Linked DNA regions of Homo sapiens: region 2 is linked to region 1. Evidence: fine-mapped expression QTL. Tissue or cell type: whole blood. Region 1 holds a variant in brackets; the other region holds the start of a gene. All regions are shown on one strand. Distances are between the middles of the regions.

What was found. PIP is the estimated chance that this variant, and not a neighbour inherited with it, causes the effect.
Region 2: LINC00921 starts here. The variant in region 1 is fine-mapped to the expression of LINC00921 in whole blood (INTERVAL, PIP above 0.99).

Annotation. Positions count from the first base shown.
Region 1 is chr16:3,349,939-3,358,040 of GRCh38, reverse strand. OR2C1 (olfactory receptor family 2 subfamily C member 1) reads right to left here and starts at 2,152. Exons shown (of 1, transcript NM_012368.3): 1 at 735-2,152. The coding sequence starts at 2,100. The coding sequence ends at 1,162. The variant C/T (reference allele first, on the strand shown) is at 3,296.
Region 2 is chr16:3,259,969-3,268,070 of GRCh38, reverse strand. It overlaps LINC00921 (long intergenic non-protein coding RNA 921), which reads right to left and starts at 4,303. Exons shown (of 2, transcript NR_033904.1): 1 at 2,303-4,303; 2 at 504-945. RefSeq lists enhancers at 3,323-3,392, 3,543-3,642, 4,083-4,242 and a silencer at 3,883-4,062.

The DNA of each region.
Region 1 (8,102 bases):
TATGGATGGAAAGTATGGACAGATATACTACATTATTATTATTGTTATTATTATTATTATTGAGACGGAGTTTTGCTCGTTACCCAGGCTGGAGTGCAATGGCACGATCTCAGCTCACCACAACCTCTGCCTCCCGAGTTCAAGCGATTCTCCTGCCTCAGCCTCCCGAGTAGCTGGGATTACAGGCATGTGCCACGATGCAAGGCTAATTTTGTATTTTTAGTGGAGACAGTGTTTCTCCATGTTGGTCAGGCTGGTCCCGAACTCCTGACCTCAGGTGATCCACCCGCCTCGGCCTCCCAAAGTGCTGGGATTACAGGTGTGAGCCACTGCACCCAGTGGTATACTGCATTATTAAGAAGAGACAGGCCAGGTGCGGTAGATCACACCCATAATCCCAGCACTTGGGGAAGTCAAGGCAGGAAGATTACTTGAGGCCAAGAATTCTAGACCAGCCTGGGCTGTTAACAGAGTGAGACCCCATCTGTAAAAAATAAAAATAAAAATTAGTTAGGTGTGGTAGCATGTGCCTATAGTCCCAGCTACTCAGAAGACTGAAGGATTGCTTGAGCCCAGGAGTTGAAGGCTGCAGTGAGCTAAGATCATGCCACTCTACTTCAGCCTGGGCAACAGAGCAAGACTCCAACTCTTAAAAAAAATGAAGAAGAGACAAAAAGAGGTAGGCAAAGATAATGACAGATAGGGTAAAAACATGAATTGTTTGGGTCTTCATATGAAGTTAATAATACATGGCTTGATTTTATGGAATTATAGTAACATTATGTAAGATACTGCAAGTGGAGGTGCTTTGCTTAGAAAAGTACAGAATTCTGCAGAAATATAAGGCATATTAAATAACATGTGGGCAACAGAGACAGAGACAGTGAGACAGGTCTGTCACAGGTCAATAACCTCTGAGCCCTCAACAACATGTCTCCCCTGCTATCGGTAGTCCACAGTAGGATTTTTGGTAAATAAGTGTAGAACATTACGAATAACACTAACCATGTTCCCAACAGCTTAGGGCTGTCAGCTTAGGGCTGTCAGGAACATGCCTTGGTTTTACCGGAATTAGTATTCCTCATGTTCACCTGGCCAGAGAGAGTTAATGAGAAACGCATGTAGAGATGAAGACGCAATAAATAACGAAGGAGTGTTCTCTCAGCCAACTTCTCTTCCTTTCCCCAGCAACCTCCTCAGTGCGCCCTTCACTTCCATGTTCCGCAGCGTGTAGATGAGGGGATTCACCATGGGTGTGACCAACGAGTAGAACAGGGAAATGAACTTGCCCTGGTCCTGTTTGCTGTTCTTGGCCGGAAGCAGATACCCATAGCTGGCTGAGCCATAGAAGAGGAACACCACCAGCAGATGGGAGAGGCACGTATTGAACGCCTTTCGCCTCCCCTCTGCAGAGCGGATTTTCAGCACTGCCTGAGCAATGAGGCAGTAGGAGATCACGATGATGCTTAGTGGGACTGCAGTGAAGAAGGTGCAGACACCATTGAGCACAGCCTGGTTGAGACTTGTGTCGCCACAGGCCAGTTTGATCATGGCAGGCACCTCGCAGAGGAATCCCTCCACCCTCCGGTGCCCACACAATGGGAGCTGCAGAGTGAATGTTGACTGGATCACAGAGTTGCCCAAGCCACCCAGGCAGGCAATCACAGCCAGCAGCCAGCAGAGCTGGGGGTTCATGATGGCGGTGTAGCGGAGGGGCCGGCACACTGCCACGTAGCGGTCAAATGCCATCACCACCAGCAGGATGCACTCGGTGGCCCCCAGCCAAAGGAAGACATAGAGCTGGGTTATGCAGCCACCATAGCTGATGGTCTTGCCTGGTCCCCATAAATTGATCAGCATTTGGGGGACTGAACTAGTAGCGAAAGCAAGGTCCAAGGAGGAGAGGTTGCTGAGGAAGAAGTACATGGGTGTATGGAGCCGGGCCTCCAGGCGGGAAAGCAAGATGATGGTTGAGTTCCCAAGTAGGGTCAGCAAATAGGAGAAGAGGATGGCTATAAAAAAGATCATCTCCAGCTGGGGATGGTCTGATATGCCCATCAGAACAAAGCCCTGCAAGGAGCTATCATTCACCCCGTCCATCACTGGTTGTCTTCAGTCACTTGATGAATTCATTTAGCGCAAGCTGCTGGAAGAAAAGTCAAGAAAAAGCTGTTGGATGAGGTGGATTTGCATCAGGAACGGTCTAATAGTTCTCTGGGATCCATAGTTAAGTAACAACCTATTTTTTGTTTGTTTTTTGAGACAGAGTCTCTCACTGTCACCCAGGTTGGAGTGCAGTGGCACAATCTCAGCTCACTGCAACCTCCTTCTCCCTGGCTCAAGCAATCCTCTTGTCTCAGCCTCCCAAGTAACTGTGACCACAGGTGTGTGCCACCACATCCAAATAACTTTTGTATTTTTTGTAGAGATGGGGTTTTGCCATGTTGCCCAGGGTTGTCTCCAACTCTTGGGCTCAAGTGATCCATCTGCCTCAGCCTCCCAAAGTGCTGGGATTACAGGCATGAACCACTGCACCTGGACTCCAACTTACTTTTTAAGATTGCAAGCTTTTTTTTTTTTTTTGAGACAGAGTCTCGCTCTGTCACCCAGGCTGGAGTGCAGTGGTGCAATCTCGGCTCATTGCAACTTCCGCCTCCCAGGTGCAAGCAATTCTCCTGCCTCAGCCTCACGAGTAGCTGGGACTACAGGCATGCACCACCATGCCTGGCTAATTTTTGTTTTAGTAGAGACGGGGTTTCACCATGTTGGCCAGGCTGGTCTCGAACTCCTGACCTCGTGATATGCCAGCCTCAGCCTCTCAAAAAGCTGGGATTACAGGTGTGAGCCACCGTGCGTGGCCTAGATTTCAAACTTCTGTTGTAATCCCCATCTACTGTTGGTTACACACCGAATGGAAAAGTTGATTCCATCAGAATGTCAGGTATGAGCTAACACGGAAATGAAGGAAGTGCCTCATGATGACAAAACCAAAAGACCCCAAGAACTGAAGAGCCCTTCAGTTCAGAACAATGGCTATGACGGGATAGAGAGAGTTGACCATTAGAATTAGATGTGAAAGTTCTCAAAAACTTTCAGTCAGACTGAAATTTCAGTCAGGCATGGTGGCTCACACCTGTAATCCCAGCATTTTAAGAGGCTGAGGTGGGAGGATCTCTTGAGCCCCAGTGTTCAAGGCAGCAGTGAGCCCCTGTACTCCAATGCCTGAGTGACAGAGGGAGACCCTATCTCTTGAAAACAACAGCAACAACACATTTCCCCAGCCAAGATTCTGATA[C/T]GCTCAGGGAAGGGGGGAAGCAGACACATTGTATTTGGAAAAGCTCCCCAGAATTTTCTGTTAAATTTCCTCTGCTCTCTTCTACATCCCTCCCCTCTGAGTTTTACCTCAGTGCTGGATCTAGAAAGATGATGTTTGAGGAATAACATGATGAATCTATAAAGTCACAGAAATAATGGAAAGAGTAGATACAGACTTATGCTCCAAATACAGAAGCTGGGAATGTACAATTTAAGAGGAGGTCAATGTAGAGCAAACAAAACTTCACTTAAGCTTAAATAAGTTTAGGTGGAAAAGGCAAAAGATATAAACAGAGGTTACACAAAAAGGGGTTAAAATAGTTAATGGGTATTCATAATTAGTAAGGGAAATTAGAAGATTTACAGAGGAGATCCCTCTTTTGAGGTATATAACTACTGTGTCCACGTCTAAATCATCAAATAATTCTTAACATCTCATGAGACCGGGTACAGTGGCTCACGCCTGTAATCCCAACACTTTGGGAGGTCAAAGTGGGCAGATCACTTGAGGCCAAGAGTTTGAGATCAGCCTGGCCAACATGGTGAAACCCCGTCTCTACTAATAATACAAAAAATTTGTCGGGCATGGTGGCGGGCGCCTGCAGCCCCAGCTACTCAGGAGGCTGAGGCAGCAGAAACACTTGAAACAGGGAGGCGGAAGTTGCAGTGAGTTGAGATTGCACTACTACACTTCAGCCTGGGCAACAGAGCTAGACTCTGTCTCAAAAAAAAAAAAAAAAAAGAAAAGAAAAGAAAAACAAACAAACAAACAAAAAACCCATCTCATGAACAAAAAAATCAGCTCTTGTTAATAATGGGCCAATCACCATCCCCTTTCCTTGGCCAGGATCTCAACTTTTCTGAAGATCATAAACCACAGCCCTTCCCCTTCCTTCCTTCCTTCCTTCCTTCTTTCTCTTTTTTTGAGATGGAGTCTAGCAGTGTCACCCAGGCTGGAGTGCAGTGGCGTGATCTCAGCTCACTGCAACCTCTGCCTCCCAGGTTCAAGCGATTCTCCTGCCTCAGCCAACCAAGTAGCTGGGATTACAGGAGTGCACCACCACGCCTGACTAATTTTTGTATTTTTAGTAGAGGCGGGGTTTCACCATGTTGGCCAGGCTGGTCTTGAACTCCTGGCCTCAGGTTATCTGCCTACCTTGGCCTCCCAAAGTGTTGGGATTACAAGCATGAGCTACCATTCCCGGCCTACTTATTCTTTTTTTTTTTTTTTTTTTTGAGACGGAGTCTCGCTCTGTCACCAGGCTGGAGTGCAGTGGCGGGATCTCGGCTCACTGCAACCTCCACCTCCTGAGTTCAAGCAATTCTCCTGCCTCAGCCTCTCAAGTAGCTGGGACTACAGGTGCACACCACCATCCCCAGCTCATTTTTGTGTTTTTAGTAGAGATGGGGTTTTGACCATGTTGGCCAGGATGGTTTCGATCTCTTGACCTCGTGATCTGCCCGCCTCAGCCTCCCAAAGTGCTGGGATTACAGGCGTGAGCCACCGCGACCGGCCTACTTATTCTTTTCATCTAGGACTTAAGAGAGCTGAGGAACTGAGTTACTAACCGGATAATCAGCTCATCTTTCTTTTCAGAAGTTCTTCCTGAAACCCATTCTACTACCTCCTGCCAGTTCAGGTGCTTGTTCCCTTGTGTCCCTTTAGGGCAAAGAAATAGACAGGGCCGGGCGCAGTGGCTGACGCCTGTAATCTCAACACTTTGGGAGGCCGAGGCAGGCAGATCACTTGAGGTCGGGAGTTCGAGACCATCCTGGCCAACATGGTGAAACATGTCTCTACTAAAAATAAAAAAAAATTATCCGGGCGTGGTGCTACATGTCTGTAATCCCAGCTACTCAGGAGGCTGAGGCAGGAGAATCACTTGAACCCAGGAGGCGGAGTTTGCAGTGAGCTGAGATAATGCCATTGCACTCCAGCCTGGGCAACAAGAGTGAAACTCTACCTCAGAAAAAAAAAAAAAAAAAAGAAAGAAAGAAACAGACAGAAAGACACTGCTCATCTTCTTCCAAAGTTGTTTGGTCTGTGGGGGGCTGGTATTAGACAAAGTGAACAGGGATTTTTCCCCTCCCCAAATCTTAGAATTCAAGAACTAGAAATGGGGGAGTTTGAATCTTAGAAAAAGTCAATTAAGGATGAATGAAAGAAAAAAATACATAGTTAATAGTAAATTTATGTAAATTATTACTTCTAAGAGACATCAGTAAGTTTAAAAACATTCAAACTCATAAGTTTAAAAACATTAAAATTTAAAAACATTAAAACATCATAAGTTTAAAAACATTAAAATTTGGCCAGGCATGGTGGCTCGCGCCTGTAATCCCAACACTTTGGGAGGCCGAGGCGGGTGGATCACGAGGTCAGGAAACCAAGACCATCCTGGCGAACAAAGTGAAACCCCGTCTCTACTAAAAATACAAAAATTAGGCGGGCGTGGTGGTGGGCGCCTGTAGTCCCAGCTACTCGGGAGGCTGAGGCAGGAGAATGGCTTGAACCTGGGAGGCGGAGCTTGCAGTGAGCCAAGATTGCACCACTGCACTCCAGCCTGGGCGACAGAGGGAGACTCTGTCTCAAAAAAAAATTAAAATTTAAATTTAACAAACACAGATACAATGCATGATTAAGGAAATCTAGGCCACTCGGAAGGGACTTTAACTTCTGATGCTTGCATCAGGGAAAACAATCAAGCTCCTTTAAAATGTATTTTCTAATTCTGCTGTCAAAGAAACAATTCTGGCTGAATGGACCATGGGCTGAGCCAAGGTGGCAGTTCTAATAAGCCCAGGATCTTACAAAATACGAAAAAAAAAAAAAAAAAAGACTAAATGCTTGGCAATACATCAAATAAGTACAAAAATTCAACAGCACAAATTTAGACTGGAAAAGGCTAGAGAAGCACAAGTATCCCAGGAGTAGCTCTCAAGGTTACATCTCTGCAAGCTGAAGGCAACTTGCAATGGGTGTCCCAGAGAGAAAAATGAACAAAAGGAGGTTCCATGTAAGGGCTGGGGAGTAAGCTTTCTGCTGTGTACTGTATTAGCAATTCCTTATCCGAGGGTCTTACCTGATTTGCCTAGCATTTTAAAAAGGATAATGGAGTACACAGATTTTTAGAGAACAGGGAGAAGGAGGACATAGGTCCTATGAAGTATGGCCAAGACGGGAGACTTGCTTAGGAGGAAATAGTTAAAGGGAGAAGTGGGTTTTTTACTTCCAATTATTTTTTTCTCAGACCATTCTCCATAACAAATTTTCTTCCAATTAATGTCTTCACTATTATGAGGAGATTTTAAAAATGTGTGCTTCATAAGCAGGTGCTCTCCTTCTCCTTCTCTATGGAAAGCAAAAAAAATAGGGAGGCTGAGGCAGGAGAATTGCTTGAACCTGGGAGGCAGAGGCCGTGGTAAGCCGAAATCATGCCACTGCACTCCAGCCTGGGCAACAGAGCAAAACTCTGTCTCAAAAAAAAAAAAAAAAAAAGAAAAAGAAAAAGAAAAAAAGAAAAAAGACTTAAATTCAGAGCAGGAGAAATTACGATAGGGCATTTTGAGGTGTTGGTGTGATAAAATATTGATTAAATTCTTTGGCAAGAGAAAAATAAGGTATGCTTAGAGATTTGCCTGCCTGAAGGCACTGAATATATCTTAAGTTCTTTTTTTTTTTTTTTTTTTTGAGTCAGGGTCTCACTGTGTCACCCAGGCTGGAGTGTGCAATGATAGCTCACTGCAGCCTCAACCTCCCAGGCTGAAGCAATCCTCCCGCCTCAGCCTCTCAAAGTGTTAGGTTCACAGGCATGAGCCACTGCACCCAGCCTATACCTGAAGTCTTTTATGATCCTTTTCTGCTTGAGGACTCTGTTCCCAGAACAGAGTTGTGCATGCAAAAGGGCTTTTGTTTGTTTGTATGTTAAGAATTTCCCAGCTTCTCTCCTGGACCATTCCAGAGATGACTTTTGTGAAGGGGTTCTTAAAATTGTTGTTTTAAAACTTCCCTTTGGGGCCGGGCACGTGGCTCAAGCCTGTAATCCCAGCACTTTGGGAGGCCGAGGCGGGAGGATCACAAGGTCAGGAGATCGAGACCATCCTGGCTAACACAGTGAAACCCCGTCTCCAGTAAAAATACAAAAAATTAGCCGGGCACGGAGGCAGGCGCCTGTAGTCCCAGCTACTCGGGAGGCTGAGGCAGGAGAATGGCGTGAACCCGGAAGGTGGAGCTTGCAGCAATCCAAGATCGCGCCACTGCACTCCAGCCTGGGCGACAGAGCAAGACTCCATCTCAAAAAAAAAACACAAAAAAAACAAAAAAACAAAAAAACCAACCAACCAACCAACCAAACAAAAAATTTCCCTTTGGGCTGGGCGCGGTGGCTCACGCCTGTAATCTCAGCACTTTGGGAGTCCGAGGCAGGTGGATCATCTGAGGTCAGGAGTTCGAGACCAGACTGGCCAACATGGGAAACCCCCTCTCTACTAAAAATACAAAAATTAGCCGGGCGTGGTGGCAGGCGCCTGTAATTCCAGCTGCTTGGGAGGTTGAGGCGGGAGAATCGCTTGAACCTGGAAGGCGGTGGTTGCAGTGAGCCGAGATCTTGCCATTGCACTCTAGCCTGGGCGACAGAGAGACTCCACCTCAAAAAAAAAAAAAAAAAAAAGATTCCCTTTTACAGTTTGAGTATTTTTCCTTCCTGACTCTTCTTGCTGACAGAGGTCACAGACCTCTGTATAAACGGGCTTGGGCTCTAATACCATGTCACCGCCAACCTTTCGCC
Region 2 (8,102 bases), 90 kb after region 1:
GGAGGTCAAAGCTGTAGGGAGCTGAGGCCAGGCACGGTGGCTCACGCCTGTAATCCCAGCACTTTGGGAGGCCGAGGTGGGCAGATCACAAGGTCAGGAGATCGAGACCATCCTGACTAACACGGTGAAACCCCGCCTCTACTAAAAATACAAAAATATGCTGGGCGTGGTGGCAGGCGCCTGTAGTCCCAGCTACTCAGGAGGCTGAGGCAGGAGAATGGTGTGAATCCGGGAGGCCCAGCTTGCAGTAAGCAGAGATCGTGCCACTGCACTCCAGCCTGGGTGACAGAGTGAGACTCCATCTCAAAAAAATAATAATAATAAATAATTAAATTTAAAAAGCTGTAGGGAGCTAAGCCATGATTGCAACACTGCACTCCAGTCTGGGTGATAGAGCGAGACCCTGTCCCCAAATAAATAAATAAACATACCCACCTCACATGAGGATAGTGAAGTCTAGGAAGAAACACCTATTACCTTGTATCCAGCATTGTTCTTGGTGCTTTGTGTGTATTAGCTCATTTAATCTTCACAACAACTCTAGAACCCCCATTTTACAGTTGATAGAAACAGGGACAAAGAGGGTAGGTATATCACTTGGCCAGCGTCACACCCTGCTATGAAGCACTCACATGAGGCAACGTAAAGCACACACAATACTTAGCACCTATAAACTGCATCAATTAAAGGTCATCCACTGCAGTTCCAAAGCTGTAATTTTTGGTATTTTGACATCCCCACTTCACAGACAGCCTTGGAAATATTTTCTGTGGTTTTTGAACTCCAGTTTTAGCTCTGACTTACACAGTCGTTTTCTCCTAACTACTTCCTGCAGCATTAAGAATTGTTTCCAGCTGCTGGTTTCTGCAGAGGATTGTCCTTGGAGCGTGGGGTGTCCACTGTGGTTCCAGCCGCAGCCCTGGTGCCCACACATGAAGATGCCCTCTACAGGACAGAAAGAGAAATACCACCTGATGTTGGCTGGGATATGGGCACTGTCTTTGTTCCAAAGAACCAAAGCTTTTCTTGGCAAATGGCCTGTCAGTCATTTCAGTTTATCTCAACTGCATTTTTAAAATTTCAGTTTCTGCTCTGGAGCTTCAGAGGAATTGAGACATGAGACAATTATGCCCTAAAGAACAGTCTGTCTGCATAAATGTTATGCCTGCAGTGTGTGTGTGTGTGTGTGTGTGTGTGTGTGTTTGGAGATAGGTCTGGGACGTGTTTCCTTCGGTACTGGCTCAAGGTTCCTTATTTGACTTGCTAATTTAAACTTATTCTACTTTGGAAACCTCGAATATTTTTTCTCTATGGGCAGAGTCTGCTTTTAAAAATCATTTGTTTAATCTTCTGCACCCCAGTGAAACAAAGTCTCAGCTAATAAATTTTTTAATTTTTCTGCTGTAAAAGTAATGGAGCAAAATAAGAAATTTCTCCTCTAACATTTAGCTTGCCATATTTTATTTTCCGTTACTATTTCACAATGAGCATATATTTGTGGACTATGTTTCATGAGTCATAAAACTTTAAAAATGCTCATTGAACGCCGGGCATACTGGTTCACGCCTGTAATCTGAGCACTTTGGGAGGCTGAGGCGGGCAGAACACAAGGTCAGAAGTTCGAGACCAGCCTGACCAACATGGTGAAACCCCATCTCTAACTAAAAATACAAAAATTAGCCGGGCGTGGTGGCGTGCGCTTGTAATCCCAGCTACTCAGGAGGCTGAGACAGAAAATTGCTTGAACCCGGGAGGCGGAGGTCGCAGTAAGCCCAGATCATGCCACTGCACTCCAGCCTGGGCAGCAGCGTGAGACTCCGTCTCAAAAAAATAATAATAAAATAAAAAAATAAAACGTATAGATGACATAGAGGGAAAAGGCCAACTTCTACCCCCAATTCTACTCTTGAAAGGTAGTCATATTTATTTCTTGCATTTCCCTCCAGATACTTAAATTTTAACATTTTTTTCTCTTATTTACAAACATGGGATCATGCTATCTGCACTGTAGTGCAAATGTGCTTTTTCCACTGAATAATACATAAACCATCTTTGCACATTAGCACACAGAAATTCACCGCACTGTTTTCAGTGGATGCAGTGTAGTCCAAGGAATGGATTCACCAAAACTTACTCAGCTATTCAGCCAGTGCCCTGGTGACAGACATTTAAGGGGTTTACAGTTTCTAACTAACTGGCAAGTGTGGCAGGCAGGGAAATGATCTAGGATGATTACCATCATTTGTGTAAGAAAGTGCCCCTGAGAACACCATGAAGGTGAATACAGCCTCGATATGCTTACCTGAAGACAGTAGTCTCGATGGGTAGGACTTAAATCCAATGTAGGAACTAGAAAAACAGACCATCTAGCTGGGTTTCCAAGCTTTTTTGTGGGCTGCAATACACTTGGATCAAAGGAAATCTTTCTTGAAGGTTAAATATGTAAAACAGTTAAAAAGTAGTGGCCGGTCTGGCATTAGTTGGGAGAGGGGGGAGGGGGTAGGAGGGAAGGAGGGAGGTCTATGCCTATGAAGCTCCTGAAATAAGAAACCTGGGCCGGGCGCGGTGGCTCACGCCTGTAATCCCAGCACTTTGGGAGGCCGAAGCGGGCGGATCACGAGGTCAGGAGAGCGAGACCATCCTGGCTAACATGGTGAAACCCCGTCTCTACTAAAAATACAAAAAATTAGCCGGGCGTGAAAATTAGCCGGGCGTGGTGGCGGGCGCCTGTAATCCCAGCTACTCGGAAGGCTGAGGCAGGAGACTGGCGTGAACTCGCGAGGCGGAGCTTGCAGTGAGCGGAGATGGCGCCACTGCACTCCAGCCTGGACGACAGAGCGAGACTCCGTCTCAAAAAAGAAGAAAGAAACCAGATGCATGTGCCTTCTTTGAGCCAAACCATTACCTCTCTGGCTCACAGCATGTTACTAGATTTGTTCAAAAGGAAAAAACAGAAGTTTCAGCAACCGTACTCTAGGGTTCTGAGGGGGCAGAGTTTGAGAATCCTTGCTCTAGCCCGCCTCTGCTGATTATAAGGGAGAAAACGGCAGTGCTGCTGTTAGGCTGATGTATCTGTTCCTTTCACAGCTTTGGTCATAACTGGTAATTACCATTTACTTGTTCTCAGCCTCCTTGGAACAGCGATCTTGCCTGACACGTGCACCCTCGCACGTGGCACAGTAAGTGGGACACATTAGGCACTCGGAAAATATTTGCTGTAAACATGAAAGAAGGGCGACAGGCTAATAAAGTGTGGAAGGGTTTTGGGGTCAGCACAGCCCCGGGACGTCCCATCCCCGTGGGCCGCGGGCCGCCCGGAATACGACGACTCCACTTGCCGGCGCTGCTCCCGGGATACCAGCGACAACAGCGGCTCAGTCCCGGCAAACGGCGCGTGGCCCCTCCGGCGAAAAGCAGCTATAGGCTGTTGCGGCTGCCAATCAGACCAACAGAGCCGCGACTCGGAGACCTCTGGGAGACGTGGGCCCCCGCTAATCCGCCCTCCAATTGGCTCGCGTGCTCCCGGGGCGCTCTGGGAGATGTGTTTCTGGGAGTGTTCCGCGCATGTGCATGCGTGAGGGCGGGGCGTCGGGGTCGGGCTGGAGTGTCTGTCGCGCCTTATGTGGGCCCCTCGGCAGAAGACGCACTTTCGGCAGAAGCCGCACTTTTGGCAGAAGCCGCCCTGGGTCCTTTCCCTCCCGCAGGCAGGCCGGGACCCCGGCGGGAATTGCGTGCAGGTCGGGTCTCGCTTGACCCCAGCGCCTCCCCGCGTCCGGGCACACTGCGGACAGTTCCTTTTTATTCTCTACCGCTACTTCCTCTTTATCTTCTGCCGCTCTTTCCACACGTCTCCTCCCCCAGGCCGCTTCCCTTTGGGGCGCCGGGCCAGGGAGGGGCTGCCGGACCGGAGACCCCGGACTCGCGCCGGTCTCCGCTCGGGCGTGGGGTCCGTGGGGCGTCGGCGGGAGGGGTCCTGGAGGAGACGGCTGTGCCGGGGCGGGACCCCCTGTCCTCTTAACAGACGCGCCCCTGACAGTCGTGCCAGTCGCCGCCCTGGGCTTTGGGGACGTCCGAGGACGCAGCTGGCGGTTCCTCCCGCGGTTCCCGGCACTGTTACTTCCCCGAATTCCCAGAACAACCCATTTGATAGGAAATGGAAACTGAGAAAAATCGAGTAATTTACTCACGTCACACGGCCACCAGATATTTGAATCTCGTATTTCCCACCACTTCGTGGCTTCCAGGCTCATAAACAAGAAGTTGCAAAACAGGGTGAGGCGTGGGAATGACAGCAGCACGGGGCGGGGAGTGGAAGGGCGGAGCACCTTAGAGGGCAGGATTCAGCAAACGGAACCTCAAAGGAAACAGTGTCAGTGCTGCTGCTTAGTTGGTAAGAAAACAAAGGGCCGGGCGCGGTGGCTCACGCCTGTAATCCCACCACTTTGGGAGGCCGAGGCGGTCGGATCGCGAGGTCAGGAGTTCGAGACCAGCCTGACCAATATGGTGAAACCCTGTCTCTACTAAAAAATACAAAAATTAGCCGGGCGTGGTGGCGCGCGCCTGTAGTCCCAGCTACTCAGGAGGCTGAGGCAGGAGAATCGCTTGAACCCCGGAGGCACATGTAGTGAGCTAAGATCGCGCCACTGCACTCCAGCATGGGCGACAGAGTGAGACTGCGTCTCAAAAAACAAACAAACAAAAAAAGGGAGTAGCTGCCTTCCAGACACAGTTTTGTTATTTTTCTGCCCCTTTCACTAGCCTGTCAGCCCTTTGGTGGCCGGGGATTGCGTGTCCAAAGCCTGGCTGCTAGTCAGGTTCCTATAAATATTGGTAGGACAGAGCGTATTAAAGTTTTTATTTTAAGATTTTTAAGCACAAGAAAGTTGAGAGAGTAACATGAATACTCACGTACTCTCCACCTAGATTTAATAATCAGAAAAAATTATGTGTGTAGGCCTTTATTTTTTACAAACCCTCTTGTTTAACGTTACCGCCTTCCAAATGAAGCTCATTGGTGAGTGGTGTGGGGATCTATTCAGAGCCCCATGACTGCAGCCCTTCAGCAGGGTTAAGGCCACCTGCCACACCCCACTTTGGGAAGCTGGCTTCCTCTCCTCTCCCTCCGTTTCCAAGCTGCTCAGGAGGTGCCCTCAGAAAGATCAGTTACAATTAGTGTTATCTGCGTAGGGGACTGGGCAGCAGATCTCATTGATCTGGGCTGGGATCGGCAGGTGGGTTGGTCCAAGTTGAGAGGGAGATCCTGCAGAAGCTCTTAGCTGCTGCAGGATTCAACACTAACTCCTTAAGGTAGCAACAAGGGCCCTTTGTAAAATCTGGCCAGAAACAGGTATCTTAGATGCATCTTCACACCCGCCAGTATCCAGTCTACCCTTATCATGTCAGCCCTGCTTTCAGAATCACCCAGAATCTGACCCTTCTGCCTCCACAGTGGTTCAGGGCCCTGCAGTCGCTTTCCTGCATTGTGACAATAGATTGCTTTCTCCTCTCTGTTTCCACCTTTCTCATCTCTTGTCTCTTATGGAAGCCAGAGTGTTCTCTTTTCTTTTCTTTCTTTTTTTGAAACAGTCTCACTCTTTCACCCAGGCCAGAGTACAGTGGTGCGATCACAGGTCACTGCAACCTCCGCCTCCCAGGTTCAGGTGATTCACCTCAGCCTCCAGAGTAGCTGGGACTACGCGCACATCACCACCACACTCAGCAAATTTTTGTATTTTCAGTAGAGACGGGCTTTCACCATGTTGGCCAGGCTTATCTCGAACTTCTGACCTCAGGTGATCCACCTTCCTTGGCTTCCCAAAGTGCTGGATTATATGTGTGAGCCACCGCGCCCGGCCCAGAATGTTTCTTTTAAAGCGTAACTCCAATTATGTCACTGCTCTGCTCAAACTTTCCAGTGTCCCCTCATCTCAGAGTAAGAGCCAAGTCCTTGCTGTGTCCTGGGAGCCCTGCTACTTGATAGGGGACTCCAGCTCCCTCTCTAACCCCTCCATCCACTCCTCCTCCGTGCCTCTGCTCCAGCCACCACTCTTCCTCAAACACTAAGCACAAAGTTACCCCTTTTGCACTCTGTAAATAGGCAAAGACTGCTCATCCTCAAAATGAATACCTGGCTTACTCCTCTTCCTTTGGGTCTCTGTTCAAGCACAAAAGCCTTCTTCAAGTGCCCTATTAAAATATGAAACCAGGGGGCACGGTGGCTCATGCCTGTAATCACAGCACTTTGGGAGGCCAAGGCGGTTGGATCACTTGAGGTCAGTTGTTTGAGACTGGCCTGGCCAACATGGTGAAACCCCGTCTTTACTAAAAATACAAAAATTAGCCTGGCATGGTGGTGTGAGCCTGTAATCCCAACTACTTGGGAGGCTGAGGCAGGAGAATTGCTTGAACCCGGGAGGCAGAAGTTGCAGTGAGCCAAGATAGCACCACTGCACTCCAGCCTGGGTGACAGAGTGAGACTCTGTCTCTAAATAAATAAATAAAAATAAAAAAATATGAAACCAATCCCCTGCACTCACTAACCCTATTATTCTGCTGTTTTTTCCCCCAACTTATCACTCCCTGATACATTGTGTATTTGTTTGTTTATATCAATTCACACTTTCCTATAAGAATGTGGGCTCTTGGCTGGGCGCAGTGGCTCATGCCTGTAATCCCAGCACTTTGGGAGGCCGAGGTGGGCAGATCACAAGGTCAGGAGATCGAGACCATCCTGGCTAACACGGTGAAACCCCGTCTCTACTAAAAATACAAAAATTAGCCGGGCGTGGTGGCAGGCGCCTGTAGTTCCAGCTACTCGGGAGGCTGAGGCAGGAGGATGGCGTGAACCCGGGAGGTGGAGCTTGCAGTGAGCTGAGATAGCACCACTGCACTCCAGCCTGGGCAATATAGCTAGACTCCGTCAAAAAAAAAAAAATGCGGGATCTTCTGAGCCAGGCGCAGCAGCTCACGCCTGTAATCCCAGCACTTTGGGAGGCCGAGGTGGGTAAATCACTTGAGGCCGGGAGTTTAAGACCAGCCTGGCCAACATGGTGAAACCCCGTCTCTACTAAAAATACAAAAATTAGCCAGGCGTGGTTGTCGGTACCTATAATCCCAACTACTTGGGACGCTGAGGCAGGAGGATCGCTCAAACACTGGAGGCAGAGGTTGCAGTGGCGAGATTGCGCTACTGCCCTCCAGCCTGGGCGACTGAGTGAAATTCCATCTCGAAAAAAAAAAAAGAATGTGGCCTCTTCTGAAGGGCATTTATATCAGAAAAAAAAGAATGTGAGCACTGCAAGAAGTTTTTTTCTGTTCAGTTCTGTATCAGTAGTACCTAGAATAGCATCTGGCATACAGCAGGTGCTCCAAGAGTAAATGAATGGCCCTGTGGTGCCTCTTCCTAGCTAGACATGTGTTCAGTATGTCAATTAACCCATCTAAACAGGGTGGGCAATTGTCCCAATTTCCCCGGACTGTGGTCGTTCCCAGAACTAGGCTTTCAGTGCTAAGACTGGGCAAATTGGGTTTTGCTCCTAGACAAAATGTGTTGGTCACCCTACCTGTAAGCCTACATTTCATCATCTATGAAAAAATAGTTGGCTGGTCACGGTGGCGCACGCCTGTAATCCCAGAACTTTGGGAGGCTGAGGCGGGCGAATCACAAGGTCAGGAGTTCAAGACCAGCCTGGCCAACATGGTGAAACCCCGTCTCTACTAAAAATACAAAAAATTAGCTGGGTGTAATGGCGGGCACCTGTAATGCCAGCTACTCGGGAGGCAGAGGCAGGAGAATCGCTTGAACCCGGGAGGCGGAGGTTGCAGTGGGCCATGATCTTGCCACTGCACTCCAGCCCAGGTGATAAGAGTGAGACTCTGTCTCAAAATAAATCAAGTAAATAAATAAGTAAATACTATATACCTCCTTTATCATGATGGTTTAGGGGCACGGGACTGATACTCCCTTAGAAGTTAAGCTAATTGTGAAAGACTTTTTTTTTTTTTAAATACGGAATCTTGCTCTGTTGCCCAACCTGGAGTGCAGTGATGCAATCTCGACTCACTGAAACCTCCACCTCCCAGGTTCAAGCAGTTCTACCTCA